Linked DNA regions of Homo sapiens: region 1 is linked to region 2. Evidence: fine-mapped expression QTL. Tissue or cell type: blood mononuclear cells. Region 2 holds a variant in brackets; the other region holds the start of a gene. All regions are shown on one strand. Distances are between the middles of the regions.

The links.
Region 1: it holds the start of XYLT1, and the variant in region 2 is fine-mapped to the expression of XYLT1 in blood mononuclear cells (TOPMed, PIP above 0.99). The same link has a PIP of 0.9 or more in whole blood.

Annotation. Positions count from the first base shown.
Region 1 is chr16:17,469,881-17,472,825 of GRCh38, reverse strand. XYLT1 (xylosyltransferase 1) reads left to right here and starts at 1,866. Exons shown (of 12, transcript NM_022166.4): 1 at 1,866-2,392. The coding sequence starts at 2,030. It overlaps LOC107987234 (a long non-coding RNA gene), which reads left to right and starts at 2,399. Exons shown (of 2, transcript XR_001752091.2): 1 at 2,399-2,945. LOC105371106 (a long non-coding RNA gene) reads left to right here. Exons shown (of 3, transcript XR_933144.3): 3 at 722-1,819. RefSeq lists enhancers at 1,371-1,872, 2,647-2,696, 2,817-2,945.
Region 2 is chr16:17,377,006-17,379,505 of GRCh38, reverse strand. The region is part of intron 1 of XYLT1 (xylosyltransferase 1); the gene reads left to right. Among named protein-coding and RNA genes, the nearest start is that of XYLT1, 93 kb to the left of the region's middle. The variant TTC/C (reference allele first, on the strand shown) is at 1,258.

The sequences.
Region 1 (2,945 bases), 93 kb before region 2:
CAGCAATGCTTATCTCACCATATATATATATATAATATTATATATATTTACATATAAATATATATATTATATATATGTTATATATTATATATTATATATATTATATGTACATATATATAAATATATTATATATAATATATTTATTATATACATTATATATAATATATATATATACAATATATATATATTTATATATACGTTTTTTAGATGGAGTCTTGCTCTGTAACCCAGGCTGGAGTGCAGTGGTGTGATCTCGGCTCACTGCAGCCTCTGCCTCCTGGGTTCAAGAGATTCTCCTGCCTCAGCCTCCTGAGTAGCTGGGATCAGGGGTGTGTGCCACCATGCCCGGCTAATTTTTGTATTTTTAGTAGAGACGGGGTTTCACCATGTTGGCAAGGCTGATCTCGAACTTCTGACCTCAGGTGATCCTCCTGTCTTGGCCTCCCAAAGTGCTGCGATTACAGGCATGAGCCACCGCGCCCAGGCCTATCTCACTATATTTTAATGATTAACATCCACATCAGGCTTCTCTAGACCTCAGGCTTGCTGAAGATGAGATTAAACCTCATTCACCTTTGGATGCGTGCACCTGGCCCAGTGTCTGACACAAGCTTTGTATTCACGGATGCTTGTGGAGTGGATGAAACAATCTCTTCCCACTCCCTGCCTCATTGTCTGATGAGCCTTCATTACACTCCACTTTCTTCTCTTTGTAAATTAGGATGAGGTGAAAAAGCACAGCAGACAAGATGCGAAGCATTCACGCCAAGTCCTCAATTCACAAACTGATTTGATCTGCTGTTGTATTCCCAGAGTGCTAGGTCCCGTATGGGACACCAACGCCATCCCATATGCTCACTGTTCTGCGCTGCTGTGTATAAAGCCCTGGGCAAGAGGACAAGGGAGGGAAAAACCAGAAAGACTGAGTCAGAGAAGGCTCGGGATGAAATTTGAGTCCATTGGGATCATTCTGCCTAAACGACAGAGGAGAAAGCTTGGGCTCAGGGAGGAGTCCTCCTCCTCCTGGCTCAAGGTCACCGGGACAGACCAGTCAGGATGGGAAAGAACTCCACTTTCAAGAGCAAGACCTGTTTCCCCAGGACCTGGGCCCTGTGCAGACAGGAAGGGGGACTTCAGGATGGATGGGGAAAAGGACACGCTGGGAGGCTGCGGGGCCAGCCTTTGGGGCTTGCATCCTGCGAAGGTTGAGTAACTCCACGGGTCTCCCTTTTGCCGCTATACCACTTGCCAACTGGGTTTGGAGTCTCTTGGCTTGTGAGTCCTCAGGGACCAGAGAAGTGACTCAGTGAACACTTAGTACATCGTTGGCACCGGGGATTGTGTGTGATTCAGGAGTCACTCACAGAGCTTGTGCTGATTAACTCCAGAAACTCACCCAAAGCCTCCTCCCCACCCCTTCAAGCCCAGGATGAAGGGATCAGACTGTGGCTCTGACACTCCTGAAATGTTTCTCACGTGTCCACCTGCCAACCGGTCTGGTACCGACAGAAGATCCCTGGACCGCGAACTCCGGGGCTAGGAGCTTCCTCCACGCACTGCCTCCTTCCAGCGGCCCACAGGGAAAACAGGACCTCGGGACCCCCTCTCTTCCTGACCTCCCCTGGATTCTGAGCGGGCCCACCCTCAACCAAAGGTCCCCTGTTTCGCGGCCCCTGCCTCTCTTTTTCCGCCTTGGGAATTGTCCCCCTCGCCCCCCATCCTACTCCCACTACGTCCTGAGGGGTGTCTGTCTTCTCTGATCGCCCCCACCCCCTTCCTTTCCCTCCTCCTTTTCCTCCCTCGGCTCCTCCCCCAGGCCCCGCCCTCTCCGCCTCGGCCCGCGTCCCCCCGGCGCCTTCCCCATCACCCTCCCCTCCAGCGGGGACAGGGGTGTGGGGAGGGGGGCGGCGGCGGCGGCCCGAGCGGGAGCCCGAGCGGCAGCCGGCGGCCGCGGGAGCTGCGGGGAGCGCGGGGGCGGCCCGGAGCGTGCCGGGGTCCCCGCGCCTCGCTCGCCGGCCGCGCTCCGAAGATGGTGGCGGCGCCGTGCGCCCGGAGGCTGGCCCGGCGCTCGCACTCGGCGCTGCTCGCGGCGCTCACGGTGCTGCTGCTGCAGACGCTGGTCGTGTGGAATTTCAGCAGCCTCGACTCCGGGGCCGGGGAGCGCCGCGGGGGCGCAGCGGTCGGCGGCGGGGAGCAGCCGCCCCCGGCCCCGGCCCCGCGCCGGGAGCGCCGGGACCTGCCCGCCGAGCCGGCTGCAGCCCGAGGAGGAGGAGGAGGCGGCGGCGGAGGAGGAGGAGGACGGGGGCCCCAGGCGCGGGCGCGGGGAGGCGGCCCCGGAGAACCGCGGGGACAGCAGCCGGCCAGCCGGGGGGCACTGCCCGCCCGGGCTCTGGTAAGATGCCCTTTCGGCTCGCGCCCCGCGGCGAGGGAGGGAGGAAGGCAGCCCGACCCCACGCCCCCCTAGCCCTTGAACTCGGTCATCAGACTGGGACTCTGCAAGCCTACCGACTCCACATCGCCTCTTGCCCCGGGAAGCCGGGTGGGGTCCCTGCCAAGGCTCAGGGGTCGTGGGCTGCCCCTTTCAGAGTCTGAGCACGGACCCCTTGGGGTCTGGGGGAAGTTTTCTCCAGCGGGGGCGCTTTGGGGGTTACCGGAGCCTGGCTGGGTTCCTGTTCCCCATCACTCTTGCTGGGGACCCCAGGTGACTTGCTCCGTGCGTGTAGGTCTTGGTGACTCGCTCCCTGCCTGAGTGAGTGGATCTCCCCGGATCCTCAGCCGCTGTTCCTGGGCGGTTGTCGCAGCAGCATCTCTCTGGTTTTTGCCGAGCTGGGTGCAGACAGTTGAGCCCTCTGTTCGTCCTGGCCTGCGATGAGGGCTGAGCTGGGCGTCCCAAGTCCCCGACCATGCCCCTGAATCAATACTCAGTCCGGGGTGTCTGGTCTTAC
Region 2 (2,500 bases):
TCCTCCGGGGGCCAGGTTCCCATTTTCATGCCATTCCAGTTTGCTGAAAAGCCCTGGGGTGTCTCTGCCCCCAGGCAGGCTGGGCTGGCCTCACAGAGGTTTTCCATCTCTTAGTCGGCCTCCCTGATTTAAAGCCGCCTGTCAGATGTTGGAGATTAAGTTAGAAATCAGCCATTTGCGCTGAGTTTTGGAGAAGCTGCTGCCAAATGGGAACTCCTGAGTCTTTTCTTCTATATATAGTCTTTAGGGTGAGCTAACTGAAGTTAGCAGGGTTTATTTTAGGAGGTGTCTCCTTGGAGCGGAGTGTGGTGGGTTGGGCTGCCTGCCCGGGGAGCATTTGAAAGATTGCTTAGGCTGACATCCTGCAGGAAGATCTGCTGGCCTCTGACAATTCTGGAAGAAATATGCACTTTTTTCCTGCCTTTTCCTTTGTTTCTGGCAGCAAAGCAAAGGAGTGGTTGAAGGGCTATGTGCCCATTTAGCAGACAAAGCTGTTGAATCTCAGTAACTTTGCAAAGTGGTTGTGATAAAGCGGAGGTAAGACAGGTCCTCTCATTCCTTGTTTTGTATCCCTTGTGGTAAAAGTTAAATTCCTTGAAATATTCTGTCTATGAAGAAATACTAAGAAAGTAGGGGATGGAGTGGGTTTTAATCTGAGCTTAGGAGAATACAGTATAAAGAGCTTGGACTTGAGAGTCATTCCTAGGTTCTAACCCCAGCTCAGCCTCTTACTGGTTCTGCAGCACTGGGCCAGTTACTTTTCTGCCTCAGTCTCAGTTTTCCTGGCTGTGAACTGGTCGTAATTTGCCTTACAGTGTTGTCGTGACGGTGAAAACATGAGTTACAAAGAGTTAAGGCCAGTGAAGTACCTGGCACCTAATACGTGCTTCATAAATGGCAGTTATTGCTTTATTTGAAGAAAAGGAAACTTTTAGCAACATATTCCTAGAAATTACCTCAATTAGAAGGAGACATCTTGCTAGAATACTAACTAGGATTTTAGGTTAAATTATGCAGTCATATATTAAAAGATCCACCTTTTGGGAAATATCCATTGACTGGTGACCTGGCAGAAGGAAACCTCAGGCTCATTTCTCTGCAAGGTCCTGGCCTCTTTGAGTAAGCCCAATAGACATAATCAAGATGACAGTGTATATTATTTAAAAGGTGATTATATTAAAGCATTTTTTGGTGAAAAAAAAAAGTCTTGGAACAAATAAATACCTATTTGGTATGGGAACTGCAGTCTCTTCCTCT[TTC/C]TCACACACACCCATGCATATTGTCCCTTCAACATTCGTGCCATTTGTTGTGTTTAATTATAGGGGAAGTGAAATCCTCTCCAAAGTTGCCTGCTAGTTAATTGCTGACGTTTCATTCTCGAACATTTATTGAGAATAAGCTCTGCCCCATGCCTAGTGGAGGAAACCCCCGTGACATTTGAGTACTGTAGACAGGTTTGACCTATTCCAATTCAACAAGAGAGAAAGAAGCAAGGGAGAAAAAGAGCAATGCAGATCATCTGGGTATCTTCTTTGTCCTCCAAAGCCTCAGTTCTTCCCTTTGTACAATGAGCACAGCTGGATTTAATGGGCTCCAGGTTCTTTGCTGCTCTTTGAGGCTGAAACTCAGGGGAGGTAAAGAAATTCTTTTGCTTGTTCTGAACCCCAGTGGGCTGATCCAGAGCTGCTTGTACACCCTCCCCTTTCTAGATGAGATGGTTCCAGCGTGAATGGGGATGCTCCAGTGCTTGAAACTCACAGGCATCACGTGGTTAAGCTAGAAATAGAAAATAAGTCATGTCTGGGTTTCGAGGACTCCCTGACTATTCTGGTTATGTTTGGAACAGAGCGTTTATGAGAGGCTGAACTGAATGGATGGGATCATAGCTTCCATTCCATGGAAGGCAGGGTCGTCCAGCTTTCCTGATGGGAATGTGTTTGTTGGGCAGGGGTGGGGTTGGGGTGATAAGCTTCTTGGGGAGTGAGCTAAATAAGCCATTCTCAAAGCCCTTCCCCTGAGAATAGAGCAGGCTGGCTGTCCCGCCAAACAAAGAGCCTGGATGTCTTGAACCACTGCAGTGATGGGAAGATTCTGCCATCCAGACAATGGGAACTCTATCGCCATGTCTAGCTGAGGACAGGGGGTTAGTGTCTGGCCTCATGAGGTCCCAACAGGTCTGTTTGATGGGCAGGTTAACAACATAGGCACTAGAACCAGGTCCTTCTTCCTGGCTGGGGGATCTTGGGTGAGTTATTAGTTAATCTGAGCCTTGACTATTCCATCTATAAAAACAAGACCCAGAATAGTACCTAATTTTGTGTGTGTGTGTGAGGCAGAGTCTCACTCTGTCACCTAGGCTGGAGTGCAGTGGTGCGATCTTGGCTCACTGCACCCTCCACCTTCCGGGTTCAAGCAATTCTCCTGCCTCAGCCTCCTGAGGAGCTGAGATTACAGGCATGTGCCACCATGCCCGGCTAATTTTTGTATTTTTAGAAGAAAT